Linked DNA regions of Homo sapiens: all the other regions are linked to region 1. The links come from fine-mapping of genetic effects on gene expression. A gene starts in region 1. Each other region holds a variant in brackets. All regions are shown on one strand. Distances are between the middles of the regions. Region 1 holds the start of GLB1L2 (galactosidase beta 1 like 2). Region 2 holds the start of LOC124902798 (a long non-coding RNA gene). Region 3 overlaps B3GAT1 (beta-1,3-glucuronyltransferase 1).

Region 1 (10,440 bases):
ACACGGCTCTTGATTCAGTTCCCTCTTCTGCCCCAGTTACCATCCCATTTATGTATTCCCTTTCTTATTTATTTATTTATTTTTGAGATGGAGTTTTGCTCTTGTTGCCCAGGCTATAGTGCAGTAGTGTGATCTCAGCTCACTGCAACCTCTGCCTCCCTGGTTCAAGTGATTCTCCTGCCTCAGCCTCCTGAGTAGCTGGGATTACAGGCACCCACCACCACGCCCAGCTAAGTTTTGTATTTTTAGTAGAAATGGAGTTTCACCATATTGGCCAGGCTGGTCTCGAACTCCTGACCTCAGGTGATCCACCCGCCTCGGCCTCCTAAATTGCCGGGATTGAAGGCGTAAACTACCGCACCCAGCCTATGTGTCCCCTTTCTAGCCTATATTCTCAAAAGAGTCATCTACATTAATGGTCTTAGATTTCTCTTCACCCTTCCTTCCCGAACCCATTCCAGTTGGCTTCCCAAATCCCATGACCCCCAACTCCACCCAAGCTGCCTGTGTCCAGTTCACCAACGTTTACCACATACTAAATCCACGGGTCGATCCTCAGTGTTGCTTTAACCTCACCTGTTGGTGGCATGGTTCCTTGCCTTTTCTCAGTGTTAGGTGTGCCAGGGCTTGTCCCCATCCCCTTTCTCGGTCTGCACTTTGTTAATTGGTGCAGGTTCTTGCCTTTAAATACCAGCTCTCTGTCAACTCCTAAATTCGTATCTCCATCCCAAACCTCTTTCTGGACCATCAGGATTGATGTTCAGCAGCCTGCGTGGTGTCTCCACTCCACTCCACTCAATGCAGCAGGTCCAAGCTGAGCTACTGATGTCTCCCAGAAACTTGCCCATGACCTTCCCCATCTCAGGTCACAGCGACCAGCACTTCTTGTTTCTCAGGCCCAGCCTGTGGGAGACATTCTTAAGCCCCCTTTATTTCTCTCCCCCTACAAACAATCCACGAATTGCAACAACCCTCTCATGTCTGCTTTCCGAATACTCCCAAAAATTCAACACTTCTCACTACCTCCACCGCTGTCCCCTGAGCCAGCATCGTCTCCCATATGGATTACTGCATGGCACCAGTGATCCTTCTAAGTTATCATCACCGCCATGTTCAAACCATGCAGTGGCTCCCATTTCATTCAGAGTCAAAGCCCTGCTCTTAAAGGCCCTGCATGATCAGGCCCCTGTATCTCTCTGTCCTCATCTCCTGCCTTCTTGCCATCACCTCCCACGCTGTCCTCCTAGCCTTTCCTTGGACACCAGGGACACCAGGTCATGCTCCTTCCTGAGGGCCTTGGTACGAGCTGCTCTGTCTGCTTGGACAGTGCTTCCTCCAGGTTCTATCTTGGTTCGCTTGCATGGAGAACTCCCACTGTGTTCCGATCTTTGTTCAGCTAATGTCTTTCCGGGGAGACCGCCTCTCTGCAGACCCCTCCCCACCACATTCCCAGTCCTCCTTCCCTTATTACTTTTTTTTTTTTTTTTTTTTGAGATGGAGTCTCACTCTGTTGCCCGGGCTGGAGTGCAGTGGAATGATCTTGGCTCACTGCAACCTCCACTTTCAGGGTTCAAGCAATTTCTGGCTAATTTTTGTATTTTTAGTAGAGACGGGGTTTCACCATGTTGGCCAGACTGGTCTTGAACACCTGATCTCAAATGATCTGCCTGTCTCAGCCTCTCAAAGTGCTGGGATTACAGGCGTGAGTCACTGGGCCTGGCTCCCTTATTACTTCTTAAATTTTTGCAATGGAGTTTACTACCTTTGAATATACTCTACAGTTTACTTATTCATTCTGTTAAGTTTTATTGTCTTTCTTCCCTAGCTAGAACAGAAATTTCAAAGAGAAGAGATCTTTGTTCTGTCCACTGATACATCCCAAGCATGTGAAACAGTGTTCAGTATGTTGTTTATGGTCATTAAAATTTGTCATTTACTTTTTAATAAATACAATGCTGCAGAATTAGATCTTTGGCTATTAGGCCTTCAAAGGCTGAGCCTACAAAATGATAGTTAGGCTTGGTAAGGCCAAAGATCAAGTTCTGTGCATCCTTATCGGATGTGCACAGGCCCCTTCCAGTCCCACTCACATATCTTTGGGGCTGAAAAGCTTTGTCTACTTCCTTTATCTTAAATCTGCCTTCTCTTTTCTTTTTCCTAGGCCAAATCTCCATTCCAGGACTTTCTATTTTGTTTTGGCTAGGGTTGAAATGGCCCTCATTTATTCCCAGGAATTCTCCTGTGCTCTGAATTTCTTTGTTCAAGACCCCTGGCAACTTGACATCATAACTGGACTTTGCTTCTCCTGAGGGGAGGGTGGATGGGGGTTGCTGGACAGAGGTGTCTGTCCATAAGGAGGAGGTGGGGAGGAGAGGGTTATATCTTGGTCCAGGGGCCCAAGTGACTGTACTATCGTAGAAGCCACATTTTTCATCTTATTCTCATGACTAAAAGAAATTTTGCCAATGTTTTCCTAAAATTCAGATATCCTGTGTTTAAAGCATTAGCAGAGTGCCCTCAAAAATGAGTTACGTGAATGAATAACTGATCTGTAAACCTGTTACCTATTAAAAATAAAAAGTGAAACAGCAAATGAGACTAGTTTGACATGATCGCTTTTCCCACGTGACTTCACTGTACTGATTTTGAGCGAGTGTGGTTTTTATTCTCCTGTGTGTGCATTTTGTATGTGTTTCGGTTTCCCGCTGATTATCTGTGATACAGGAATTTTCAAGGAAGGAACTGTGCCCTCTGGGTCTGTTGGAGCTCTGACTTAGAGCAATGGAAATGGCACACCAACAAGATTTAACTTTTTTAAAAAGCATTTCTTGTATTTTCTAAACCCTGGACACTAGAAAGAAGGCCTGGGAAGAGGATGATTCCTGTGTACCAGGGATTCATTACCAAGCCAAGCACCTTGGCAGACCACTTTTTTACCCCACTCTTATGCCAGCTCATTGTAACTGTAGCTTTTGTTCCCAGGGATTTGAGTATTTTCACTGTCTGCTTTGGGTTAAGATCACTAAACATTTTGGAAAGGAGACACTGAAGGAGTATCTTGCTAATTTTTTTTTTTTTTTTTTTTTGAGACGGAGTCTCGCTCTGTCGCCCAAGCTGGAGTGCAGTGGCACGATCTCGGCTCACTGCAAGCTCTGCCTCCTGGGTTCACGCCATTCTCCTGCCTCAGCCTCTTGAGTAGCTGGGACTACAGGCGCCCGCCACTACGCCCGGCTAATTTTTGTATTTTTAGTAGAGATGGGGTTTCACCGTGTTAGCCAGGATGGTCTCGATCTCCTGACCTCGTGATCTGCCCCCCTCGGCCTCCCAAAGTGCTGGGATTCAGGCTTGAGCCACCGCACCCGGCCTAATGTTTTAAAAAACAAAAGTCTCAGGCTGGAAATGGTGACTCACGCCTGTAATCCCAGCCCTTTGGGAGGCCGAGGCAGGTGGATCACCTGAGGTCAAGAGTTTGAGATCTGCCTGGGCAACATGGTGAAACCCCGTCTCTACTAAAAATACAAAAATTAGCCGGGGAAGGTGGTGGGTGCCTGCAGTCCCACCTATTCGGGAGACTGAGGCAGGAGAATAGCTTGCATCCCGGGAGGCATTGCAGTGAGCTGAGATTGCACCACTGCACTCCAGCCTGGGTAACAGAGTGAGACTCTGTCTCAAAAAAAAAAAAAAAAGTCTCAGCCTATGAGCAAGACGCATCTCGGGTTAGTGCTAACTTTGTAGCATTCTGTGGTATCATTAAGCCCAGATAAAGTAAAATTGTTCCTAGACTGTGAGCAGGGTGTGTCCCTAGTTCTGAACATCCCACAAGGTTAAGGGGAAATTTTTTTGAAAACACTCAGTTATGTATATTTTTCTCGCACAAATAAAAACGAAGGATACAAGGGTGGGCCAAGGAGTTCACGGTTTTCACAACCCATGTTAAGTTTTTGCTAACGTTTGAAGAAAAATGGAGATGCTTGTATTGCTTAAACCATTTGAGAATTCCCTTATATTTGATAGATTCTGCCACTGTTCAACGTGACCAGAAGTGAGAGGATGAATGTGGGGTGCATGTCTTTCGGATGGTCCCCTGCAGGCAAAGGGGCTAGCCTTTGACAATTTCTCCACACGCTTCGGGGCTAGCTGGTATATTCCAATTAAACCAACATGTTTCCATCACAGACTTCATAGCCATCAAGCAATCATAGCCTTACCCAATGGAGAAAAGGAGCGGGCTTGGAGCGCGTCCACGGGAGTGGGCCTCCCTCTGCGCGCCTCTGGGAATGTTTGCGGTGCTTAAGTCAGACCCGGATTGCTCCAAGCCCAGCTTATCCTCCCCAGTTCTGCCAGGGTTTTTTTCCTCTTGTTTGTTCGTTTGTTTTTGCCTCTCTTTGATTTAACTTTTGCTCCTTGACTAAATATGTGCTTAACGCTAGACAAAGGACACTTCATACCCAAGTCTGTGTCTTTGTTCCAAGATCTGCAATTTCATTTGGTTCCTGTCGGCTTTACAAGTTCAAAACTATGCCCCCGTTTAGGAAATGAATTCAAAGCATGCGGCAAGGGAGACATTCGACAAACCCGGATGCTCTGGAAAACGTTGCCCTTCCTCGAGTTTCTTTCAGTAAAATCTGAATTTTGTTCCCGGGAGGAGTTGGGTTTGTGATTGCTACAGTGTAAGTTGCACCGAAATACTACATCATGTTCTTTGGGACATACATTCTGTTTCAGAATAAGAATGATATTCTTCCTTTCCTAAAATGTGAGAGTTTTATATGGACCTTTTTAAAATAAAAAATTGGAAGCCCTTGGAGTCAAGGCCAGAGTAAGACTCGCAGAAACCAAAGACAGAAAATATTTGGAACCCCCCCTCCTCAGACATGAACCACACTGAAATGTGTCCAGATACAATTCTTCAAAATCCTGGCTTTTCACAGGATGATTTGTTATTGAAAAAGTTGTTTGCTTCAGAATCTGAATTGTTTTAAAAGATTCTGTTGGTTGCCCCTGCTTTGCGGACGCCTTTTGTACGTTCTTCCTGATGTAGCGCTGCGAGGGGCGACTTTACCTCGGCGTTTGACAGGTACGCAGCATTCCCGCACCCGCCTGCGCCTCGCGAGCAGAAAGACGGCGGACTCTGCACCGCTCCACGACACTGGGGACCCGCCCCGGCCAGACCCGTCCCCTACCGAGACCTTGTCCCCGCCCCGCCCCCGGCCGGGGCCCCGCCCCGCCAGCCCCGCCCCCGCCAGCCCCCTCTCCTACCGAGACCTCGTCCCCGCCCACCAGCCCCGCCCCGCCCCCCCCCCGACAGAGGCCCCGCCCCGGCCCCGGCCAGCCCCGCCCCCGCTTGCGCGAGGCCTAGGGCTGCAGGCGCGGAGCCGCGAGCCCCAGCCAATGAGCGCCGGCGGGCCGGTTGCCCAGGCGACCAGTGCGCGGCTCCGCCCCCCGCGGCGAGGCTCCCGCGCGCGGCTGAGTGCGGACTGGAGTGGGAACCCGGGTCCCCGCGCTTAGAGAACACGCGATGACCACGTGGAGCCTCCGGCGGAGGCCGGCCCGCACGCTGGGACTCCTGCTGCTGGTCGTCTTGGGCTTCCTGGTGCTCCGCAGGTGAGAGAGAGCTTCGCGCAGCACCTGCCGGACCCCACATTCCCCAGCCCTCCGCACCTCGGGTTCTCTCCTCCCGCGACCCGCGAATCCCGAGTTCCCGGGGGGAGCAGCCCCAGCTGCTTCTTTCTGGGAGCTCCCCAATACCCCCGAGTTCCCCTGCGGCTGCAGGCACTCTACTCCTGCCGCGCGATCCAGGCCTCTGGGCGACACCCGGCGTGCCCTCGGGAGCCGGCGTCTGTGCCCCGAGCCGCCCACCCCGCCGCGCCTGTGACGCCGGGCTCTGCCCCCCGTGGACGCCCGCAGCCCTCCAGCCGTCAGAGCCCTCTCAGACGCACCCCATCGCGGCCCCGTCCCCACTGCTCCGCGGAGAGCTCCCTCTGCCCTTCCCCCAGGCCCCCCTTTTCCTCCCAAGCCTCTGGGAGGCGCCTTATTCCGCAGAGGCCGGCGCTTCAGCCTGGCAGGTATGGTCTAGCCAGCTGGCCTGGCAGGGTCGTAAGAACAGTGTCCGTGGGCCTCCAAGATCCCGGGCCATGATTTATTTGCACAGTAGGACTGATAGGTCGTCTCTCTCCACTTTCCCACCATTCACCTGTTACCAGCTCACCCTTTCCTCTCCCCCTTTTCCAAATGTTGTTTATGGCAAAGGAGTGGCTTCAGTGATACTGTGATTTACCCACAGCCTGTGAAAAAGTTTTCTGGGTGCCCTAGCCCAGCATTTTTCTAAACTGTGCTTATTTTAAGGATTCTACAGCCCTGACCCTATCTTTCAGGTCAGCACTTTCCATATTCAAAACCTCCAGTGGGAAGCCGACCGGCAGTATCGAATGAACTGAACGGTTGGAAGTGGTGGCAGGCCCTACGCCGCTCGGCTTTGTCATTTGCTTCTTTTTTACTTAGAGAAACTAAGTTCTTAGTTTCTCTGCACTTCCCCTGGGAGACAGGGAAGTTTTTGATGGAGATAAATATCTGGAAGTCCTTTGTGGCCAGAAGAACACACTGACAAACTCTATGTTTACACCTTGTCAAGACTGGATTCTTGTTTCTGAGATAGTGGGGACGTCATGATATTGTTTGGGAGAAGGACGGATTTTCTTCTCATTCTGGGGCCCAGAAAACTTCAGGCATTTAACTTCTCCGGTTGTTCCCAAGATGTTTTCTGTCCTGCCTAAGATCTCTAAGCCATTCCTCTCTGAAGATTGGCCCTGGCTCCTGTGGGATGCTCAGCTTTCCTCCCTGTGCAAGGCTTACGCAAACCCCAGAAGAATTACTCAGAGCAGCGGCAGCAGATCCTCCTGCATACAGCAGGGTAGCAAGGCGTGCAAGCTGCCAAGAGAAAGGCTAGCGGCTGCAGGCCTGTTGTTGGTCAGGGATACAGGAGTCCGTGCAGGGGACCCAGGCAGGTCACTATTTGGGGCAGCACTGTGGGCTTGAGATGGGCTGAGTGGTACACCCAAAAAGTCCCCAGGAAAAGGTATGCGAAGGAGGCTGAGGGTTTGTTATTGTTTGGTGGGACAGAGGTGAGGTGGCAGGGAGCTGACCTAGCTGGGAAGACGCCTGAGCTTCTTTGAGGTGAGGTAACTGTGTCCCCACCTAGGTGGGGTGACCGCACTAGGAGTCAGTCTTGGGCCATTGGAGCAGGTGGAATGGCAACAGAGAATAAAGAGCTGCAACCAAATTCTGTGAAAACAGTTTGGCCTGCCTGGGAAGGATGTTTTTCTTGCCTCTCCATCCTTCTAGCAGGTAGAACAGAAGCTCAAGGAGCTCTGAACCAAGTTCAGGGCCGTGTCTTCAGATCCTGTGGAATACGTGTCTTTTTGGCATCTTTTTGATTTTTTCACCCTCATGGGTACATTCTGCCAGTTCCTCCTGTCTGACTTGGGCTGGACACCAGTGAGTATGAGTTGCTGTAATATCTCTGGAGGCAGGAGGAGAACATCCTCTTTGTCTTTCCCTCTTCCTGTCTTGCCCCAGCTCTGACTGGGTCATTAACTGAGTGGGAGGTGGGGCCTCTCCCAGCTGTTACTGGGCAGTGTTGAGGTGGCCAGTGGAATATAGGTCACGTGGAAACTGGCCACCAAGTTCACTCTTTGTGGAGCCGAGCTGTCAGGAGCAGCCCCTTTCCTGTAGCAGAAGGCAGGTATTTGGACAGTGGCTGGCATGGGCTGGGGGATGTTTGGCTATAGCTTTTCTTTTTTTTCATCAACTTTTCCTTGGGCTGGTTCACGGTCAGTCATAGCTGGTGGGTTACATCATATCAAAAGACTAGGATGACCAGGTTGACTTTTGGGGAGGATTTCAGTCTTAGAATTTTTATTTTTATTTTTTTTAAGCGTAAACAGTGGTCTTTCTTAAAAATTACCTTTATTGGAGTTTAATTAATATGTACAATTTGATAAGCTTTGACACATATCTAAATCCAGCTGTGAATCTATCACCACAGTTAAGATTGTGAAAACAGCCACCAGCCCCCAAAGTTTCCATGTACCTCTCTGTCATCCCTCCCTCCTACTCCTCCCTGCTCCCCAGCCCCAAGCAACCACTGATCTGTTGCTTTCCGACACGATATATTGGTTTGCATTTTCTAGTGTTTTATAGAATTGTAATCTTAAAGCATGTTTTCCTTTTTGGTCTGGCTTCTTTCACTCAGAGTATTATTTTGAGGTCTGCGATGCACGTATCAGTGCGAACCGTGCCTTTGAGCCAGTTGCCTTTCATTCTCTTCCTATTCGCACTCCATGAACACAAGAATGCCTGCTTGATATTATCTAAAGGCATGGTTCTCATTCATGATTTTTTCCTTAATATAAATGAATCACCGAGCAAGAATACAGGCAACGCTGCATCTCTCATACCTGAAATTTTAGCTGGGAAAGTTGGGAGAGGGGAAAGCCTTCATGTGGGCAGCCAGCATCATGCTCCTAAGAGGTAAGTTCATTTCTTCTCTGAGGTCCGTCTCACACACTGCCCTGCCCTGCTGTTTTCTTTATTCCAGACCCCAAATTCTTCCTATAGAAAGGAAAAGGAGGAGATGTATCAAACTCTTTCTCCTGAACAAGGTGGCTAACTTAGCAATGCAGGTCACTTTTTTTTTTTTATGTGAATCATGGCCAGTCCTGTCTTCCAAGGGTATGTGGCCAAATCATGCCTCTCCTCTGGAGCTTCTGGGAGGTAATTGATTTTATGGGCCTTGCCTATTCTAGGACTCTTCTCTGCTTGAGGCCTGAGTCATATTTCATGGAATGTTCAAACTCTTTGAACAGTGTTCCTTTCATCTTGTAGTAGTAAAGTTTTCAGCATCGGGGAAGTGTCTCTTTCAGCAGGTGATCACCTGTTGGATACAGGTGTTGAGGGATGTCTGAATCACCCTGTGCTAGGAAGATCGAGTTGGCTCTGGGATTCTTACAGGACCATGCTAGCCACCAGCAGAAGGAGACCAGAGTTGTCTTGGAGCAGCCATAGTATTGGTATAGGTGTGATTCAAGGGAGGGACTGGGCTACCAAGAAGATTGGAGACAAAGAGCCTGGGCTGCAGAAATAGCAGAAAGTTGACCAAAGGGTTCTTCCCACCTTAAGGTAAGGAAGTGGCAAGTGAAATAAAAACATGTAGTCCTTGATGAAGTGGTGCAGAGTTCCACGAGGTCATGTCAGACGCTCTTCTGGGAAGAATTCAGGAGATGCTGTAGCTTGCGGAGAAAGGTTTGAGAACATTTGGACCTGAAAAGGACTCTGGGGTCTAGGCACGTCCTCCCTCCCTCCCTCTCCACCATCACCAGCAGGGGCAGGGTTTTTTGGTGTCAATGTTGGGATATTTGCTGCTTCCTCTCCACTCAGTTTTAGCTTTTGCTTAAATCTATTGCTCTGGATATTAAAGACCGTATTGAAAAAGAGTTCTCATGTGTGGATGTCTCCTGGGATAGAAAGGCAGCAGGTGTTTTTAGAGGCTCCTGCTAACGAGGTAGATATTTCTTGACTCGTGTCTGCCTGTTAGAGACTCCTTGTTGATACTCACAGCTTCTGTTCTTTGACACTCAGCGAAACAGTCAGTGGGCTTGTTCCTTTCAAGCACAGATTGTATTTTTTTCCCTTAAGAAGTTATTTTGTGAGTAGGCAATTAATGAACATGGTAAGTATTCAGAGTGTGAAGGGGAATAAAGTGAAAAGAAACTCCCATTCCTGGCCCCTAGGCTAGGCACCCTTCCCTATCCCCTATTCATATCAGCTGTTACTACTGGTAATGGCTTCTTTCAGAAATATTCTATGCATATACAAGAAGATAGCTACACATATTATCCCACTTGTCCATTAGACACATAATTTATTTAAACAGCCTTCTACTGATGGACATCGATTGTTTGCAATCTTTTAGCTACTGTAAACAAAGCTGCTGCAGATATCTGTTGGATGTATTTCTATAAGTAGAATTGCTGACCGTAGGATAGATTCATTTTAAATCTTGATAGACATTTCCAAATAGTACATTTTATTTCTGTTGGATCAATGTAAAGGAGATTCCGAGCCCAACTCAATAGGGCCAAGTCGATTCTTGAGTCTTGTAAGAGCCAGTGCATCTCTTGTATATCTTCATAGATAAGTCCTATGTGGTGGATTAAAAAAAAATTTAACATAATAATGTTTTTCCGTATTTGTGATATCATTTCATTTAGAGTCTACAAGCATCTTGAAGATCAGGGGCTTGTTATCAAGAGTAGAGGCCTTGTGTTATCTAACAGAGCTTTCTCTCTGGGTGAGACACAGTCCTTTTCCTGTTTATGATGCTGTCAATGGTCCCAAAGTACTGCAAAAGTACAGAGTAACAGAATGTTAGAACACTTTTTG
Region 2 (9,153 bases), 43 kb after region 1:
AGACTTCTTCGGCTCCATCTCAGGTACCCAGCAGACAGCAGACTCAAGTTCCAACTCAGGCCCTCGCTTCTGCTCTCAGACCCCTAAAGAGTTACTTCCTTACTGTCCCACCTCGACCCCAGTTGATCTGCGTGCAAGAATATCCTAGACAAGGACAGGGAGGTGTGTGAGGCTGTTTCCATCTTGCCGGCTTCACCTGTTACAGGTGTTAACGCTCCTTATCTCCTGTGGAGGACGGGAGAACGCCCTGGCTTTCCCCCAGGCCTGGCCTTCCTCCCTGGCCTCAGCAGGTGCTGAGAGCTAGCCTGTTGTTCCTCTTGGTGCTGGGACGCAGGAGCACATCGGGTCTGTGGATGGGAGCCGGGTGGGGAGGACGAGCAGGCAGTGACATTTGGGTCCGTTGGGGGTGACCCTGTTTTCTGTGTTGCAGGCATCCCTCTCCCTCCCCCACCTGACCTTCTTCCCAAGATGCCGTATGAGCCCTTAACGCCAGTCTTGTACCTGTCTCTGTGGGACGCCCTCAAGTACCTGGGGGAGGTGAGTGCTGTGGGCAGTCATCGGGAGGTGAGTGAGTGCCGGGGGCAGTCGTTGGCAGGGAGGTGAGTGCTGGGGGCAGTCGTCGGCGGGAGGTGAGAGTCGTCGGGGCAGCAGGGCCTGGAGCCCCTCCAGACAGGGAGTGTGGGGGGAGGCAGGCCAGTGCCTGGTGGCTCTGGGGTCTGCTCTCCGGCCTTGGAGCTCAGAGGGAAGAGGACAGACTCATGCTGGAGTGTGAAGTGGGAGAAACAGAGGTCCCTGAGGAACAGCGGCTGGCCCCGTGGGCCTTTCCTTCCTCCAGCCTCAGAGAGGAGAGTGAGGGGCAGAGGAACAGGCCGTCCCCTCCCCAAGAAGGGGGTGCCTCCTCCGGCGGACTGAGGCTGTGATGTGTGTCCCCTGCCTGCGGACTGCACTCTGCTGGTGCACACCCCTTTGCCCCACTCCTCTTCCCCGTCACCCTGGAGAGTTGTATGTTTAGTGCAATGAGAAGTCAAAGTAGAAAACACCCACCAAACCTCCGCTTCCACCCCATGTGCCAGCCCCCAGGCAGAGTCTGTCTGTGACCCCACTCCTCCTGAGCCTGCCCACCCCTCCATCTCTTCTGTACGCAGCCAATCAAGTCTGAAAAGCCCATCAACATGGAGAACCTGCCAGTCAATGGGGGAAATGGACAGTCCTTCGGGTACATTCTCTATGAGACCAGCATCACCTCGTCTGGCATCCTCAGTGGCCACGTGCATGATCGGGGGCAGGTAGGAGCTTCTCTTCTAAATTCCTGTGACCTTCTGGTGAGCAGCTCTGCAATAGGCGTCTCATGCCCTCCCCTCAGAATCAGCTCTTACCAGTGTGTGACAATGGCCCTTCTGAGTCAGCTCTGTGAGCCTTCAGGGGGCATTCATGTCTGCTCTGCCCACTGGCCCCTCGTCTGCCTACAGGCACGCGTGCTGCCCTTCTTGGCCTGGAGGAGGTCCCGCTTACCCTCCTCCTGTTGGTCATGGATGTTCCTGCCTGTTCCCTTTGGCAGGTGTTTGTGAACACAGTATCCATAGGATTCTTGGACTACAAGACAACGAAGATTGCTGTCCCCCTGATCCAGGTTCGTTGTTTTTGGGAGCTGGGTGATGGCTAGCCCCCGCTGCTTCGAGGAAGTCTGGGGGCAGTCACTGAGGAAAACCTGGGAGACCCGTGGCTCCTTACCCACAAGCTGTAGGTGGAGAGGGCGAGTGTGGCTTTCTGCCCAGCTGGGATGTACACTCCCATCCCCAGAGCGTAGGGAAGAACTGGGGTCCACAAGCAAATTCTGAGGGGCAGCTGTGGCCTTCTGACAGTCATCGTTAGCCCCGTGTTCCCGGCAGGGTTACACCGTGCTGAGGATCTTGGTGGAGAATCGTGGGCGAGTCAACTATGGGGAGAATATTGATGACCAGCGCAAAGGTGGGTCCCAGAATGTGTCAAAAGAAGAGTGGCCATGCTGGACACACAGGTGGCTATTGCTTCTCTATGCTAGCAGGCCACCAGGCCATGGAGGCCTCTTGCAGGGAGGTGGAGGCTGGGTTGTCCCATACATGAGGCCAGTTCTGAGTGGGCCAGAGAAACTCCGCTGGGCTGTGGCCCCTGTCCTGTTAGCACTGCACGCGTGCATCGTCTGCGTGCTCGTGATAAACACTGTGAACACTGAGCTGGCCTCTTGTCTCCCCTGGGCTGCAGTCGGTTTCTGCAAGGATGTCTGCTTGGGGGGGCGGCAGTGAGGAGCAATGAATGTGATTTCCAGGAATCCAAGGAAAGGCACAAGACCCCTGCCTTCTTGGGCCTCCACACTGAAGTTCTCTTCTTGATCCATCTTGGGAAAGCTTATCTCAGATGTTGGGGGAGGAGGATGCGGGACATACAGCAAACAAAACACCTGTTGGTAGCGTACCCCTCTGGGAATAGGCCGCCAATTTGCTTTATGTTTCCTGGCCTACTAAATCTTTTATGCTTTAATTTAGCCCTTCCTTTTTTTTTTTGAGACGGAGTCTCGCTCTTTCACCCAGGCCAGACTGCAGTGGTGCAATCTCGGCTCACTGCATGCTCCACCTCCCGGGTTCATGCCATTCTCCTGCCTCAGCCTCCCGAGTAGCTGGGACTACAGGCGCCCGCCACCGTGCCCAAATTTAGCCCTTCCTTTTTAAAAAAAATCTAGCTAAATGTGGGTGGTTTCAGGTAAGTTATAAAAAAAGAACTCAGAACAAAATGAATGCGACTGTGGTGAGCAGCACCGGTGACCTCCCAGCTCTCTCACGGTGTCTGCGTTTGTGACGGAGGAAACTTGAAGAGCTCTTATTGGTCCACATTTCCTCCGAGAGCCGTCTGGTGGCCTGCCAGGAAAGCCACGTGGCCCAGACACTGGGGCCTGGATCCTGGGGATCAGGGCCCTTCTAGATGGGCCTCAGAGCGGCATCTAGCACCACCCAGGCCCACACTCCTTTACCCTAGACAGCTCCCTCTCTGGGCCTGTCCTCACTTCTGTTGTTCTCCTGGGAGTTGGAAGGAGCACCAGCCTGACCATTGTTCCTAACTTTGCTTCCCTGAGCCCTTGTTGAGGGTCCCCTGGGCCCACACTGTGGAGTCCTGTCCTCTGGATCACAGTTCAATGTTTATAAGTCACAGACCTCCCTTGAGAAATGCGCGTGCCCACATAGACCCGCACCTGCCATTTCGGAGTCTGTAGGCCCTGCAAAGCCTCTCCACAGTCCTCGGCCTCCAAATTCCCAAGCTAGCCACTCAGCAGCTCTGTAATCTGAGACTGGCAGGGCTGGCCCGGCCCCGGGACACTGATGAGTGGCTCCTCAAGAGGACACATCTCTTCCCTGTTGGATGCCCGAGGGAGGGTGCCATCTGCTCACAGTCCAAACACTCCTAATGCACAGCTTTAATCCTAGGTGGCAGAGATGATTCTGGCTGAGTTATTAGGTCTGTGTAGCTTGGGCCCCACTGAAACTGGCCCTGCAGCTAGGCCAGAACCCTCTCGGTCATCTGGAACTTCCTTCAGAGAGAGGCCAGAGGTTGTTCTCGCCCTGTAACACCTCAGCTCTATATCCTTCCCATGGCAAATCTTAGGGTCTTCCTCCTTCCCGTCCCCCACAGAATTGCTAGGGAGCTTTGCTTGCAAGCGAACGGCTTCCCAGGGAGCGTACACTTCAGTACCCCTCACCCCAGCTTCTCAGGGAGCGTACACTTCAGCACCCCTCACCCCAGCTTCCCAGGGCTTCCCCTCGTGGCCCCGGCCCAGCTGACTCGGCCCCTGCCTTTGGGCTACCCACGTGTCCTGCCTCCCTCCCACAGGCTTAATTGGAAATCTCTATCTGAATGATTCACCCCTGAAAAACTTCAGAATCTATAGCCTGGATATGAAGAAGAGCTTCTTTCAGAGGTGGGTCCCTGCCCAGCACCAGCCCTTGCACTCACAGGTATAGTGCTGTGTGGTGGGGCCCAGGGGTCCCTGGTGCACCGTGGCCTGGCCCGCACCCAGGTGTGAACGCCTCCAGGGGCCAGATCGGCTGGCCGAGGTGAGGGGTGGCACCCGCACTAGAAGCCGCATTTGCAGACTAGGAATTCCCAGCATCCTACCGTGCTGCCATTCTGTGTCCTGGTTAAGAGGCGGGGGGCCTTGGATGGGGAAACGGTGTCAGGGCCTTTTATTTTGCTTTATTGTGCTGGTGGATTGAGAAGGGCCTCCTCCCTCTCCTTCTCTGTGTTCTGTCCTTAGGTTCGGCCTGGACAAATGGAGTTCCCTCCCAGAAACACCCACATTACCTGCTTTCTTCTTGGGTAGCTTGTCCATCAGCTCCACCCCTTGTGACACCTTTCTGAAGCTGGAGGTTGGTAACGCCCTTTTCCCTGCCAGTTTCTCCCACCTGCCTCCCGCCTTGGAGGGCTCTGAGCCAAAGCCACGAGCTTGGCGAGAGTCGTTGGTGGCTTCTGTGCCCAGAGGGTCTGAGAGGGCCGCTGGGGCCTCCCTGGGCCAGAGGAGTGGGTTCCCAGCAGAAGAAACACCTCATGCACTAGGGGGACAGGAAATAGAGCATCCCACCTGCCCACCCTCATGGCTGTCCAGACACAGCTCGCTTTGGTCTCCTGGACCTGAGAGAAGCACGCATGCATGTCTCCCTCCACTTTTGCTGTGGCTCTCGTGGTAGATGAACACCCTTCCCCTCTGTTTCAAGGGCTGGGAGAAGGGGGTTGTATTCATCAATGGCCAGAACCTTGGACGTTACTGGAACATTGGACCCCAGAAGACGCTTTACCTCCCAGGTCCCTGGTTGAGCAGCGGAATCAACCAGGTGGGAGCTTCCAGCCCCTTCCTGTTCCCCATGACGCCCTGCCCACCTGCCGTCCCAGGGAGCCTTCGGTCAGGGTGGAGGGGCGTGTCAGCGGGTTCTTCCTCCCTCCTCCTCGCTGCAGACGAGTTGTTGGTCCCTGTCCCTTCCAGCCTGGTTCCCAAACCCTTTCCTTCTGACCCTGCCACCTCTCAGCACCTCCCCTGGCTCCAGGACAGACGTCAGCTGCCCTCCCAGCCGGGCCCTCTCTCCACAGGTCATCGTTTTTGAGGAGACGATGGCGGGCCCTGCATTACAGTTCACGGAAACCCCCCACCTGGGCAGGAACCAGTACATTAAGTGAGCGGTGGCACCCCCTCCTGCTGGTGCCAGTGGGAGACTGCCGCCTCCTCTTGACCTGAAGCCTGGTGGCTGCTGCCCCACCCCTCACTGCAAAAGCATCTCCTTAAGTAGCAACCTCAGGGACTGGGGGCTACAGTCTGCCCCTGTCTCAGCTCAAAACCCTAAGCCTGCAGGGAAAGGTGGGATGGCTCTGGGCCTGGCTTTGTTGATGATGGCTTTCCTACAGCCCTGCTCTTGTGCCGAGGCTGTCGGGCTGTCTCTAGGGTGGGAGCAGCTAATCAGATCGCCCAGCCTTTGGCCCTCAGAAAAAGTGCTGAAACGTGCCCTTGCAC[T/C]GGACGTCACAGCCCTGCGAGCATCTGCTGGACTCAGGCGTGCTCTTTGCTGGTTCCTGGGAGGCTTGGCCACATCCCTCATGGCCCCATTTTATCCCCGAAATCCTGGGTGTGTCACCAGTGTAGAGGGTGGGGAAGGGGTGTCTCACCTGAGCTGACTTTGTTCTTCCTTCACAACCTTCTGAGCCTTCTTTGGGATTCTGGAAGGAACTCGGCGTGAGAAACATGTGACTTCCCCTTTCCCTTCCCACTCGCTGCTTCCCACAGGGTGACAGGCTGGGCTGGAGAAACAGAAATCCTCACCCTGCGTCTTCCCAAGTTAGCAGGTGTCTCTGGTGTTCAGTGAGGAGGACATGTGAGTCCTGGCAGAAGCCATGGCCCATGTCTGCACATCCAGGGAGGAGGACAGAAGGCCCAGCTCACATGTGAGTCCTGGCAGAAGCCATGGCCCATGTCTGCACATCCAGGGAGGAGGACAGAAGGCCCAGCTCACATGTGAGTCCTGGCAGAAGCCATGGCCCATGTCTGCACATCCAGGGAGGAGGACAGAAGGCCCAGCTCACATGTGAGTCCTGGCAGAAGCCATGGCCCATGTCTGCACATCCAGGGAGGAGGACAGAAGGCCCAGCTCACATGTGAGTCCTGGCAGAAGCCATGGCCCATGTCTGCACATCCAGGGAGGAGGACAGAAGGCCCAGCTCACATGTGAGTCCTGGCAGAAGCCATGGCCCATGTCTGCACATCCAGGGAGGAGGACAGAAGGCCCAGCTCAGTGGCCCCCGCCCCCCACCCCCCACGCCCGAACAGCAGGGGCAGAGCAGCCCTCCTTCGAAGTGTGTCCAAGTCCGCATTTGAGCCTTGTTCTGGGGCCCAGCCCAACACCTGGCTTGGGCTCACTGTCCTGAGTTGCAGTAAAGCTATAACCTTGAATCACACCCCCTCTGGTGATAGTCTCTGGTCATGTGTGCCACTCTTGCCAGAAGGGAAGGCTGTCTGAGAGCTTGGTTTTCTTGGTCAGGTTCCCATTGGGCCCCACTTGCCGCCTGGGGGTCCAGATGGGGACCGTCCCTGGGGTGGGTGGGCCATGATCCTGGCCTCATATTCCCCTCCTGACCCCGACTTCCCTTCAAATGTCTCTGGATTGGAAGTGCCCTGGAGAGGACAGTTCAAATGCAAATTCATTCTCATGCTGGTGGGCGGGGGTAAGAATCTGCCAGGCAGTCAAGGGCGCTCCATATGAGTTAACTGCGGGGTTGAGTTTTGCTTCACAAACTACATCTGGCATCTACTGCCAAAACCAAATTATCTCCAGTAAGAGTCAGAAAGTCAAGTAGCACACACATCCCCGGCACAGCGAGAGCTCTGGGAGCCCCGTGAAGGTGGGCTGGGGGATGGTGAGCCGTGGAGCTCACTGAGGCCAGCAGGCTTGCTGCCCGTGTGTGGCTGCCCAGGGGGAGTGCAGGGGACATTCGTGGTGTGCAGCCCAGCAGCTGAGCCGGGTCAAGGGCTTATTAAATGGAGCTTATTAAAGGAAAGCTTGTGGACAGTGGCTTGGGAACAACATGGGGCAGAGTCCCTGGTTTTGCCCAAACTCACCAGTTCTTCTGGAACTGCCTCGGAACGACAAGCATGGGGCTAAGATGTGGATGAGACTCGGGCTACTTGGGTGTGGCCTGAGCCACCTGCAGGGTCTTCTGCCCCGCTTTACCTGAGTGTGTGCTTCTGCAGAGCTGTGTATGAGCTGGTTCCGTCAGAAAGTGATGGAATGGAAGGGAACCTTCCTGCAAATCCTCCTGTAAGGTGGAGAAGCCCCTTGGATCACACTTCCACGCAGACCTGAGCAGGACACACTGTGGTTTCCTAAGGTGAGGTCTTCCTACACCAGCTTCTTATTCTCACCCTTATTTTCTGCCAGTTAATTGCTCAGCTTCTCTATCAAAGTACCTCTTGGCAGAGCTTATTCTCCAGCGTTGACTAAAGATGTTTCCATTATCTTCCACACGGTATGGCCTCATCTAGGTCTCTTTGGAGAATCCCTCTTCATATCCAGCCTCTGAATGCTGGGGGTCTCTGGCCCACTCCTTGGGCTGTTTCTTTCCTCTGTCCACACTCACTGCATAGGGTCTCACCCGTGCACCTGTGGTTTGTAAACAGGTTGGACACCCGCGCCCGCCGATGCTGGGCTGCACCTGAGCTCCAGGTGTGTGGGGGCGCATTTTCTTCTGCATGTGTCTAACAGGCACCTGACACAGAGCTCCATTTCCCCACATTACCCCTCCTGCACGCAGCCCTGTATCTGGAAATGGCAGTGCTGTTCTGTGTCTCGGGCTATTTTGGACCCCTCTCTTTATCTCCCACATCCAATCCAGCAGCAGATCCTCCTGGCTCTGCCTCCTAAACTTGGCCAAAATTTGACTGCTTCTCTCTGCCCCAACCCCATGCCCCCACTCAGCCCACTGCATCTTGGCCTGGATGATTCCAGGAGCCACGTCTCCACCTGCCCTTGCCCTCTCCATTTATCCTCCGTGGAGGAGCAGGGCAGTTCTTCTTAGAGATGGATAGATTATGTTAGTCCTCCGTACTGGACCCCCTATTGCCTTCTGGTTTCACCCGGTGCCTGGGGACTCCCTTCTCCCACGCCCACCACATCCCTCACTGCTGTTGCCCCCAGCAGCCCCCGCCCCGTCAGTTGAGCCCGATGGCCTTCCTGCTGATCTGTAAGCAGGCTGAGCAACGCTTGTTCCGCCTGGTGGAGAGTTCGTTCTTCTTGGGCCCGGGGAGCTGCATGTCAGGGTGTTGCTGCTTCGCTCAAGGGTCACTTATCACGGAGGCCTCTGTGGTCACCCTACAGAGCACTGACCCTCTCCACTGCTACCTCTGTCTCCCCGACTCACCCTCATCCTCCATACAACAGATTGCATCTGAAATAATATGCATTCGTTATTGCCTGTCTCCTCTCGTCAGTGGGTCAGTTCTTTGAAAATGAGAGCCTTGTTTTCTCACTGCTGTGTGTCGGCTCCTAGAATGATGCCTGTTCATAACAGGCACCTGATACATACTTGTTGGGTAGCTAAATTAATAAATGAGAACAAAATAAGGCAGGGCTGAAGAGGATTAGGACTGTTAAAAACTGTATTTGACTTTTAATTTTGAAAGCAAATTAAATACAGTTAAATTAAAACAGACCAGATGCAGCTGCCTGGGTGCCACCCTCACCCCAGCCTCTGTTCTTAGAACTCCTAGCCCCTGGCCTCACTCCTGTGTGGTGGGGCTTGCCAGCGAGGGAGCAGGGAACAGACTGGGTTTGGAAAACAGTGGTCATCATGGACCCATTTCTGATTTATAACAAACTCATTCCCAATAAAGATGAAGGCTGCAGTCCACCAGGGTTATAATTATAAATAAATATACATGCAGCTAAAAGAGGATATTAGGTGAAAACAACTGACCTAGCATCTGCCCAAAGAAGTCCCCATTTTGTTGTTCATTATCAAAGTCCTGAAAATGAACCCTAGGTTTTTGGCTAAGAAGGTGGCCTCAGACCAGCCAAGCTGACCTTGGCACTTGGCTGGCTTCTGTGAGGCAGTAGAGTGCCCACACATAAGCTCACCACCTGTGCCCACCTC
Region 3 (10,440 bases), 53 kb after region 1:
TTCCTTTTCCTCCACTTGGGGGGAAAATTGTGCTTCCAACTTGCAGGAGAATGAGCCGGATCACCACTAGAGAGCCCGGCTGGGCCAGGGGGTCAGAGCCCTTTCCAGTGGGCCCCAGAGGCCTGGGGAGGGCAGGAGTTTGAGGCACACTGTTCTTTCTCCAGGATGGAAAGTGGACAGCTGGACATGAGGTGGGCTAGCTCTGCATGCTCCTGACTTAGGGAGAAATAACATTTTCTTTCCCTTTTTTGTGTTTAGAATAATTTCCAAAGCAGTGTGCTCAGGCCTCCCTCCTGCTCAGTGTCCCAGCAGCCCCTGCCCCCTCTTTCCCAGCCCCTCTGCTACTCCAGAGTCCCTCCTCCTCAGACCAGGGGCAGGAGGGAGTTAGGGAATGGCCTTGGCCTCCCTCCTCTTTCCAGGCTGCAGGAGGTCCCACCTTGCCCACCACCCACCGCCTTGCCCACTGCCCACCATGGGCTCACTCCACCCTGAGGTCTGTGGCTCTGAAGAGCTGCAGGAAAAGGCGCTTTCCCTCCCCAGTCCAGTCCAGGCGAGGGGCCTAGCAGCCGAGGTGGGCGGTGGGGAGGCAGTGTGTGGACAGTGGGGCCGTGGGGTTCTTAGTCCAGGTCAGGCAGTGACCTGTGCTGGCTCTAGAGCCTACCCCTTTGCCACTGCTGGAGGAGAAGGGGTAAAGGAAGAGGGGCCGGAGGGGGGGACTCTGCTCCCGCCACAGCCTGAGGTACAGGGGGTGCCTATTAGGCCCAGGCTCCCCCCATGCAGGGCTGGGTGCCTGTTGGGATCCAAGACAGCCTTATGCTCTGTAAACGTGAACCAGAGGAGAGCCACAGAGGTATGTCTGATTTGGGGGCAGCTCTCGGGAAGAGCAGGGGCCCAGGAGAGGAGCAGAGCGCTCGTGATGCCCGTGGGCTGCTCTCTGGTCTTCAGAATTCCCTGGCTGGGTGTCCTGTGTGGTCGTGCTGAGCCCAGGGACAGGGAGCCAGGGAGGGCCATGCTCCACTTGACTGCGGGGTCTTCTTATCTCCCTCCCGCCCTGCATCACTGCAGGGCCAGTGTGGGCGCCCACTGCACCTGCTCCTGCAGCCCCGTCAGTGCGGGGAGCTCTGGGGAGGTGCGCTGGAGCACCAGCTTGGCTGGTGCTGGACACCCCACCCTGGCCATCAGGTCTCTCGGGCCCTGGTCACGCTGGATGGAGAGAACAACAGGTCTGGGATTTCTGTGCTTAAATTCTCTGTCCTTTGTTCTGGCATCAGGCTGGGCTCTCTCAGAAGCCCCCAGAATAGAAAGGAGGGTGATGGTGATTCCTTAGGAGTCGGCCTTGGAGGGACCATCAGCCGTGGGGAGAGGATGGAAGGCCAAGAACAGGGTCTGAGGAGGAGGCTCCTGTGAGGGGAGAGGAGGAATGAGTGAGGTGTCGGCTGAGGGTGGGGCCGGGGAGGGAATGGCCAGGCAGGGCCACCAGGACCTCTGCAAAGCCCAGGCCCCCAGGTCCTGTGGGGGCCTTTCTGAGGGGCAGGTGGGGAAGGTGCTTCCAGTGAGGGCAGTGAGGGCAGGAGGCAGAAGTGAGGCTCGGTACAGATGCATTCTAAGTGGCGCTGGCCAAGGTGACTGAGTGACACCCTGTGGTCCTCTGCGGGCAAACACAATACAGAAGCTATTGCTTAGCTCCAGGGCAAGAGGACAAATGTCTGTCTCAGGCCTCAACCTCTGTTTGGCATAACCTAGAGTAGGGAGTCAGGAGTACCAGCTGCTTTTAAGAGACAGGATAAGATCACAGAAAAGCCCCTGAAAATGCCTGGCTTTGCCAACCACCCAGCACAATTCACTCGTGCCAGTGTGTCACCTTGGAACATTCATTTAGCTTCTCTCAACATCATTTCTTTGCTTCTGAAGTGTAGGTGGATCCTGTGGCCTACTTCCAGAGAGGGCTTTAAAGACTTGAATAAAAATAGCCACACTGATGAGATTTAAGTGCCATGAACTGTTCTAGGTGCTCTCAGCAACCTACTTCACAGATGAAGAAACTGAGGCCCAGAAAAGTCAAGTCAGGTCAAACAGTGAAGAGCAGGGGTCCTGGGAGCTGAGGTGGGCTCTGGGTCCGTGCTGTCACTCTGCGCTACCTCTCACTATGACAGCCGTGGGCTCATTGCTGTGGAGCAGCGAGTCCGTGAGTCCTCACCATGGCCACGTGGTGAAGGAATCCACAGGGGAAGAGGCAGACTTGGGGGGACAGACGCTGGCCAGCGAGAGTCTGAATGGCAGTGCCTTGTGGGGTGCAGGCGTCACTGCCAGCAGAAAAATCAGCAAGATGTTTGGAAGGTGACACCCTCTGAAGAGTCTGGTGGCAGAAGGACCCAGCTGCGTGGGTGAAAGTTAATGCCTGGATACTTTCAGGTGGCCCAGTGGGAAGGGGACTGTGGTGACGACGCCCTCCACTCCTGCCCACATCTGCCCTGTCCTCCACAGTGAAAGCCCAAGAGGAAAAGAATGAGACAGTTGATTCGGCCCAACCTGGTGCCGCCCTGCCCAGTGTGTGGCCCACCCTCGTCATGCCCATACCTGCATCCTGAGGCTCAGATCTCCACCGAGGGGTCAGTGAAGCCCTTCTTGCCCTCATTCACCAGCACTGGCTTCTCTGTCCGTGTGTGCCACACCAGGATCTGTGTGCCCAGAGATGCAAAACATGGTGGGACAGGCCCCTGACCTCACTCTGCTGCCTCCCTGCTCCCTCCCACACTGTGTAAACATTTCTCCTGCCCCTCCTTTTCCTTCGAGAGTTTTTCAATTGTTCCATCAAGATTTTCTCAATTGTTTTTTATTTATTTTCTGTGGCTCTCGACTACCCCCTCATTTTTGCTGTTTTTACATGTGATGCCTTCGGAATACCTGCTGGAAATGGGAAGTCTAGAACTACAGAAAAGAGAAGCCCCAAGACTTCCCA[A/AGT]GTGTGTGTGTGTGCATACGTATGCATGTTCATGTGCATATGTGTATATGTGCATGTCTGTGCATGTTCACCTGCATATATGTGTGCATGTGTGTGCATCTGCATGTGTGTGTGCGCACATGTGTGCACGCGTAGGCATGTGTGTGTGCATGAGTGCTCAGCAGGGAGGTGCTGGAGCACGGCTGTTCTGTGGGAGGTTATAACTCCCCAGTGGCCATTGCTCTCCCTTTCCCTGCCTGTCCGCAGTGTCGCTGCCTTACAGGTGATACACTGCCTTCCTGGGAGGGGGTTCCAGAAAGCCCAGGCTATTTTGAGGCCTCTGTTTCCTTCTCCCGATCTGTAGGGAGGGTCTGGATGTACTTGAGACATTGCATCACAGCTGTCAGTTCTGCGGAGGGTCTCACCTTGGTGCAGTTGGCTGCCTTGGGCTCCAGGTCGTTGAGGGTGACAAGTTCTCGAAGGAGGCTGCTTTCCTGGTAGCCTCCCTTCACACCTCGCAGCTTGAAGTAGGCCTGGCTTCGCTGCAGAATGAGCCGCAGGTTGACGGCAAATCCAGCCATGTCTATTGCAAATGGCCGGTGGGGGTCAAACACCGTCTTCCAGCCGACCACCTTCCCTGCCCCGTTCACCCGTGGGGCCTCGTACCGCAGGCCACCCACGAAGGCGACGGGCCACACGGACACCCTCCTGGTGCTGCGCATCTACAAGGGGGGGGTCCAGAGTCAGGGCGCCGGCACTGCAGATGAGGACGGCCGCGCGTGCCCAAGGGAGGCGACATCCTTCAGCCACCTCTATCTATGCCCATGGCCAGCCGCGGCCACCTAGGGGGTGTCCAGTACAGCCCTGCCCCCAGGACCCATCCCATGGGTTGGGCACCTGAGAAGAACCTGCCCTGGGCTGCCGGGGACACCTGACCTCTCAGACGGCCTGGTCTTCCCCTTCTCAGCGTGGCCCTGCTGCTGTTTTCTCCCTTGTCTAAAACCTTTCAGTCTCCCCGCTCTAGAGTGTGAAGTGACTCCCCTTGTCCCCGAGACTAACACAGCCCATATACTCAGGCGAGCTCCAACTGTTCCACCTAAGAGGTTTCTGGTAGTCACGCAGAATGACCTACTCACAAACCCATTCAGGAGATACCTCTAGGGCCAGGAATATGGTTTAGGGGCTCCAGAGCCACCTGTCTTCCCCCTAACTTGTGGGGGATGCTTTAGCCCGCAGTTCCATCCCTTTCCCTGGCTCTCTGCTGCCTGCCCCGCTCCCAGCCCGGCTTCCCGGGTTCCCCCTGCGCGCGCCTCCGCACCCACACCCCCTTCTCGGGAAGCCCCTCCACTCCCCGCAGCCGGAGGTCCCGCTGCTCACTGTCGGGCCCTCCCTCACCTCTTCGAAGAGCTCCAGGCTGTAGGTGTTGTCGTCGTCGGCGAAGTAGACCACGCCAGGCTGGCTGGAGTTGCGCGGGAAGGTCTCGCGCAGCCAGCGCAGGGCCAGGTTGCGCTGCATGGTGCCCCGCGGGATGCGTGGGTCGCGGGCGTCTCCGCGCAGCTTGTAGTTGCGGGGCGTCTCCACGTGCAGGTGCGTGTAGTTGAGGCCGGTGTCGCGCAGCAGGCGCGCGGTCAGCGGCGTCCGGCGCGGCGCATCCTCCACCACCAGCCAGTGGAGGTTGGGCACGTGCAGCAGCGTGTTGGCCATGCGCGTCAGCTCGGCCTTCTGCACCGGGCGGCTGTAGGTGGGCGTCACCACGTGGATGGTGGGCAGCGTGTCGGACCATGGCGGGGGCCGCGTGTACACGTACTCGGTGCGCACCACCTCCACGATGTCGCGGTCAGACGTGCAGTACTCCCTGGGGTCGGCGCCGGGCGGCGTTTCGCGTCGGGGGTCACTGCCCTCATCTGCGGAGTCGGGAGACCGGCGATGTGGGAGGAGAGCGCCGGCTACGGCCCTGGATTCAGAGCGGGACGCCACCCACCCTGCCAGGGCACCCTCCTCCTCCCCCGCTGCAGGGGCTGCTCAGACCCCCGCCTTGCCTGACCTGTTAGCTCTAAGGTTGAAATCTGCAGCCCTGGAATCCTCTCTGGGAGGGTCCTAGCTCTGATGACACAGACATAACCTCTTCCTTCCCACCTTTGCAGCCCTCTAGCTATTTGAGCGCAGTTGCCCATATTCCAAGATTGCATCCTCAGTTCCTGAATGTGCTGACTTTCCTATGAAAAGGCGTCCCGACCCTCCCCTCCCTAGCCCTACTCATCTGGAGGGAGCTGGCCACACTGCCCTGTGCAGGGCTGGGCTAGCAGAGCACGTGGCACTGCCCCGCTGTGGTGTGGACGCCACAAAGCCCCAGGGCCGCAGCACTGCGGCAGCAACCAGGGCCCACTGTGGGCCCGCAGGAGCCTGAGGCAGCTCCCGGAGTTCTCAAGCCCTCCAGTCAAGCGGGGCCTCTTCCCTCCTGGCCTTACGTAAGGCATTCTCTGAATCTCGGTGCAGAACTTCCTATTTCACCGCATTTTATTCTCGTGGGTTTTGCCCATAGTTGCCAAGGTATATGTAGATCTAGCAGTCCTAGCAAGAGGAGAAATCAGGGCCATTGGGATTCTTGTTTTCCATGCGTCCCTTCTCTCCAAATTCTGTCCTTCCATCGGAAGGGCTCATGCACCAATGACGGTGTGGCCCTCCTGTCCTAGCTTACCGTCGGGTGGTAAAGGTAAGAAATCCCGGTGCCTGGGCTGAGACCCTGCCCACTTCTGCCGTTACGAACCCTGTGCCCTTGAGCAAGCTGCTTAGCTTCTGGCGCCTCAATTTCAGCAACTGTAAAATGGAGCTAATAATAGCATCGAACTTATCGAGTTATTATGTGGATTAATGAGTCCACAAGGGCTGAGAGCACCGCCAGGCACAGTTTCCTCTCTTGCGGAAGGGCAGTGGCCAACTCTGCTTCCTTCTGGCTTCAGGCAATCGGTGGGGACAGAACCAGCAAGTCACACCAAAGGGGAGGACCCCGGGCATCAGCTCTTCTGCTGCCTCCCTCCGGCCACTGTCATCGGCAGCATGTGGGGTGTGTGGCACGCTAGCGTGGAGCTCATCTGAACGGACCCAGGAGGCCTGCTCGTGGCTCTTCAGGAGTTCTCATGGGCAAATGGCACCAGGCACACAGCAATTGCTGAGGGTCGGGGGAGGAAACCAGCACACACGCAGTCGCTCAGAGGGGGCTGCTTAGAGGAGTCTGGGGTCAAACTGTGAGAAGAGCAACGTGGAAGAAAGCGGGATGGGTGTCTAGGGTTCTGACCTAGACAGAGGACTTAATTCATCCTATGGGCAGTCAAGTTTTGGAAACTGAGGCCTTGAGAGGAAGTTTGGAGCCACTTTGTCCACCTCTCTGCCACCCAAATCATCCCAAGGCCGCAGAGGACCTGTGCCCTTGGACAGTCCCCATACATTAGGGCACGGCTACTGCGTGTGCTCCTGGGCTTCGCCCTTCCCATTGGCTTCAGGGCGTCTGCAATTTTGGGTCCTAAAGGCCTCCTGGTGACCCTAACTTCACTCAGCTGCAGCTTTCATTCGCTTGCTCTTGGCATGCTCTGGGGAGACAGAATGCCAAGTCCCCAGCCTCAGGCAGCACCATCAGTGCTTAGCAAACAGCCTGACGTCTCCAGCGCTGGAGCTCTGCCAAGAACGCAATCGACACGATATCATGTCGCTTTATATATAGTAGTTTTAACCCCTCTGGAGTGATGTATTTGCAAGATAACAATGATTCTGAACTGACAAGCACAGAGAAGAGGCCCTAGGGTCGGGAGGAGAGGATGATGTCAGGAAGACAGGCGCCAAGTGCCAGCCACGGGCAGTGGGCTGCCGCAATGTTGAGCTTGGCCCTTCCTCATGGAAGCTTCAGGAACAGCTATGGGTTTGCAGGACTTGGTATTTGACTGTGAGGAGCAGCACGACTTCAGGCTGTGATTTTTGGACACTGCCTGCATCTTGGGGTTACAGGCACTCACCACCTCTCTCTGCATGGGCTTGGTGCTGCCTTCTTGTTTATCACACTGCCAGGTGGTATCATGCACGCTGCAAACGAACAGCTGCCTGACCCCACGTGAGCCTGTGCATGTAAGTGGGGGAGGGGGCAGAAAAGCACGAGACAAAGTGCTGAAGAGCTGGGGCAGCCAGCTGTGGGGTGCGTGGCAGGTTTGGGAGTGAGAGGGAAAGGCGACCCAGGACCCAGAGCCAGGGGAAAGGAGTTCTACCCCTAGTTCTTCCACTAGTTCTTCACGGGACTTTTCCTCTCTCCAGCCCTATTTCCACCAGGTAGCACTAGATCAGGGTTTCCTACACAGGAAAAGAAGAGAGGCAAACAATATACTCTCTGTGAAAGGGTTTAAAACACACTGCAGGCCAGAAATCCTATTCCTCCCCCACCATCCACTTCAGAATGGTCGCTTTCCTTGCATGTCATGAAATGGCATGTGAAGTTGTACATGCGTGTCTTTCTGTGTATGTGTGTGTATTAATGATGTTTGTTTTTTAAGTTTTTCTGTATTTTAAGATGCGTCGACATCTTGGGGGACTTGCAGATATGGGGAGGGACTGCCCCTCCCGGGACTAGCTAATTCCTAGTGACAGTACACACCTTGCCTGCAAACACACTTTTCATATGCAAACTACCTGATCTAGAGCTCATACCCACTACCACCTTTATGGAGCTCTCCCACCCAAGCCAATCTTCCGCTGCCCTAAACCACCCCAGGGCGATACCAGACAATTAGAAACCACACCCATATCCTAAACCCACTGACTTTCTTCAGACTATGCAATTCTGGGCCAGCTCAGCTGCCGACAGTGCTTCGCCCTTCCCTTCCTATGAAAACCACTTTCCTTCCTACCAAAACCACACTAAAGACTCCCACTCCCTCCACTTCCCACCTCCCCCTCCCTTCACTTCCCACCTCCGACCTCAGCACTTCCCCAGGGGGCAGGGCGTGCCCCCTCCTCTTGGGTGCTGAGAGTAACAAGCTCTTCTTTCAAGGCAACTGTCTTGGTGTCTGCCAACCTACCATCCCAGGCATCTTAAAACTGTGTGGGTAGCTTCCATTAGCTTCCCATTCCCAAAGGGGTGCAAGACTCATGAAGGGGCCTAGATGATCCCGTGGTTCCTCCTAGCTGCTAAGTGAGTGCAAGCAAGAACCCTGCGTGTCAGCTGTGGTCACTGTCACTACCAAGGCCCAGCTGGGCAGGCAGGGCATGCGTGCGTGCTCACCCTTATGTACCGCGAGCAGGGGTGCGAGGGTGCTCTGGTGCCAGACAGTGATGAGCAGAGTCCAGGGCAGCACGATGAGGACGATCGCTAGGATGTCCCGTCTCTTCGGCATCTCCAAGGCTGGCTGCACCCACGGCTCCTCATTACCTGAGTGGCGGTAAGTTCAGGAGAGGGGCGGCCACGGGCGGCGGCAGCACAGGGGAGAAAAGAACAGGCATGGGCCGGGCCGGCCAGGCATGGAGAGGACAGAGCAGCTGAATGTTGGCTAGCAGGTCTTACCAGCACTCACAACCCACCCATTGCGGAAGCAGGTTTGGAGAGTCCGGCCCAACTGGAGTCTGAGAAGGGGTCGCTGTCCAGGGGCAGGGGTCAGGAACCCTGGGGGGTGGACACCTGCAAGAGAGAGCAGAAGCGGATAGCCAGAGACCCAGGTATAGGAATGGATGCCAGCAAGGCTGGGCCCTGCTCTGGGACACACAGCATCGGGGGTTCCACAATGGAGCCTCAACTGTCCATCACCTGAGGACCTCTTTTGTCTGCCTGTTAGAGTGGAATGGGCTCTGTCCTTCCCACAGGCACAGGGCCATGGCTCTGCTCCATTTATGAAAGTCAGTAGGGTGCAGGGGTCAGAAGCACAGACTGCAGAGACACCAGGTTTAAATCCCAACTGTGCCACCCACAGGCTGTAAGACCTTTGCCAAGTCATTTCCGTTCTCCATGCCACAGTTTTCCCATCTATAAAATGGGGCACTGTGGATCCCTACCTCATAAGGTCATTCTCAGAATTAAACAGGGTAACTCCCGTGCAGCCCTAAAATGCCAGCTACTTATCAAAGCCTGGATAAAGGGGTGAGAGGTTTTATTTTCTCTCTCTCTTTTTTCTTTTTTTTAACCATATATGGACCACGAATTATTATATTAAAAATAATTTCAACATTTTAGATTTGGGGGCACATGTGCAGGTTTGTTATGGGTCATATTGCATGTGATGCTGAGATCTGGAGTATGATGAATCCCGCTGCCCAGGTATGAGCATAGTACCCAACAGGGCGTTTTTCAGCCGTTCTTCCTTTGAGAGTCCTCAGTGTGTATTCTTCTCATGTTTACAGTCATGAGTACCCAGTGTTTAGCTCTCACTCATAAGTGAGAATGCATCGTGTTTGGTTTTCTGTTCCTGTGTCAATTTGCTCAGGATAATGGCCTCCAGCTGCATCCAGGCTGCTGCAAAGGCCATGATTTTGTCCTTTTTTATGGCTGTGTAGTATTCCTTGCTGTATATGCACCATGTTTTCTTTACCCAGTTCACCACTGATGGGCACCTAGATTGATTCCATGCCTTTGCTATTGGGAATAGTGCTGCGATGAACATACAGGTGCAGGTGTTTTTTTTGTGAAACACTTTATTTTCCTTTGGATACATACCCAGTAATGGGACTGCTGGCTAGAATGGCAGCTCTGTTTTAAGTTCTTGAGAGATCTCCAAATTGCTTTCCATAGTGGCTGAACTAATTTACATTCCCACCAACAGAGTATACGTGTTGCCTTTTCTCTGCAGCCTCATCAGCATCTAATATTTTTTGGCTTTTTAGTAATAGCCATTCTGACTGGTGTGAGATAGTATCTCACTGTGGTTTCAATTTGCATTTTGGTGACAGTCTTTTGAGGACAAAGAAGAGATGTTTCTGGGATGGTCCCTGGGGGGAAGTACGAGAGTGCCTTCCTCTTCCGTGTCAATAGGACATCCTTGTGGAGCACCGCTCTGTGCAGGACAGAGCACCAGGTGCTGGGCTGGGCAGCAGCAAGAAGAGGGGTCCCCGCAGGGGCTGCCACATTGAGGGGAGACAGTCCTCCAAAATGAGAACAGCAGGGGGCCCAAGTGAGGAGAATGAGCCACTGGGATTCCTCAGTCCTGCAGAGGGTCCACTGGTAGCATCTCTGGGAACCGTTCTCTCACATGGCAAGGACACTGGGCGAAGAGACCTCCTGACCGCCTTGGAAACTGTCACATCCTCTTCTCCTCCCTTTTCACTTCTGTGCTGAGCACCATGCATGATGCAGCAGGGACCCGTGGGGGTGGTGGGGAGGGCAGGCAGCCTCGGGCAGCCCAGCCAGCCTCACTGTGCCCACCCGTCCCAGTGCCCAGTGTTGGATACGGACAGTACCTCACCTGGGGGCCATGCTGCCTGCTCCTGCCCCAGCTCACGTGTGCTCACCATTTCAGGCAGAGTCGAGTGCTATG

Evidence for each region.
Region 2: its variant is fine-mapped to the expression of GLB1L2 in whole blood (INTERVAL, PIP above 0.99). The same link has a PIP of 0.9 or more in nasal epithelium and sun-exposed skin.
Region 3: its variant is fine-mapped to the expression of GLB1L2 in cerebellum (GTEx, PIP above 0.99).

The regions. Positions count from the first base shown.
Region 1 is chr11:134,326,544-134,336,983 of GRCh38, forward strand. GLB1L2 (galactosidase beta 1 like 2) reads left to right here and starts at 5,445. Exons shown (of 19, transcript NM_001370461.1): 1 at 5,445-5,604. The coding sequence starts at 5,519. RefSeq lists a silencer at 5,295-5,594.
Region 2 is chr11:134,369,863-134,379,015 of GRCh38, forward strand. It overlaps GLB1L2 (galactosidase beta 1 like 2), which reads left to right. Exons shown (of 19, transcript NM_001370461.1): 11 at 1-23; 12 at 431-537; 13 at 1,146-1,286; 14 at 1,559-1,630; 15 at 1,890-1,968; 16 at 3,859-3,946; 17 at 4,283-4,394; 18 at 4,740-4,856; 19 at 5,110-6,462. The coding sequence ends at 5,196. LOC124902798 (a long non-coding RNA gene) reads left to right here and starts at 6,934. Exons shown (of 2, transcript XR_007062961.1): 1 at 6,934-7,392; 2 at 8,202-8,479. B3GAT1 (beta-1,3-glucuronyltransferase 1) reads right to left here. Exons shown (of 6, transcript NM_054025.3): 6 at 8,646-9,153. RefSeq lists an enhancer at 6,599-7,498. The variant T/C (reference allele first, on the strand shown) is at 5,528.
Region 3 is chr11:134,379,347-134,389,786 of GRCh38, forward strand. It overlaps B3GAT1 (beta-1,3-glucuronyltransferase 1), which reads right to left. Exons shown (of 6, transcript NM_054025.3): 2 at 8,202-8,594; 3 at 4,334-4,842; 4 at 3,364-3,660; 5 at 2,578-2,678; 6 at 1-1,401. The coding sequence starts at 8,313. The coding sequence ends at 2,592. Among named protein-coding and RNA genes, the nearest start is that of B3GAT1, 28 kb to the right of the region's middle. The variant A/AGT (reference allele first, on the strand shown) is at 2,960.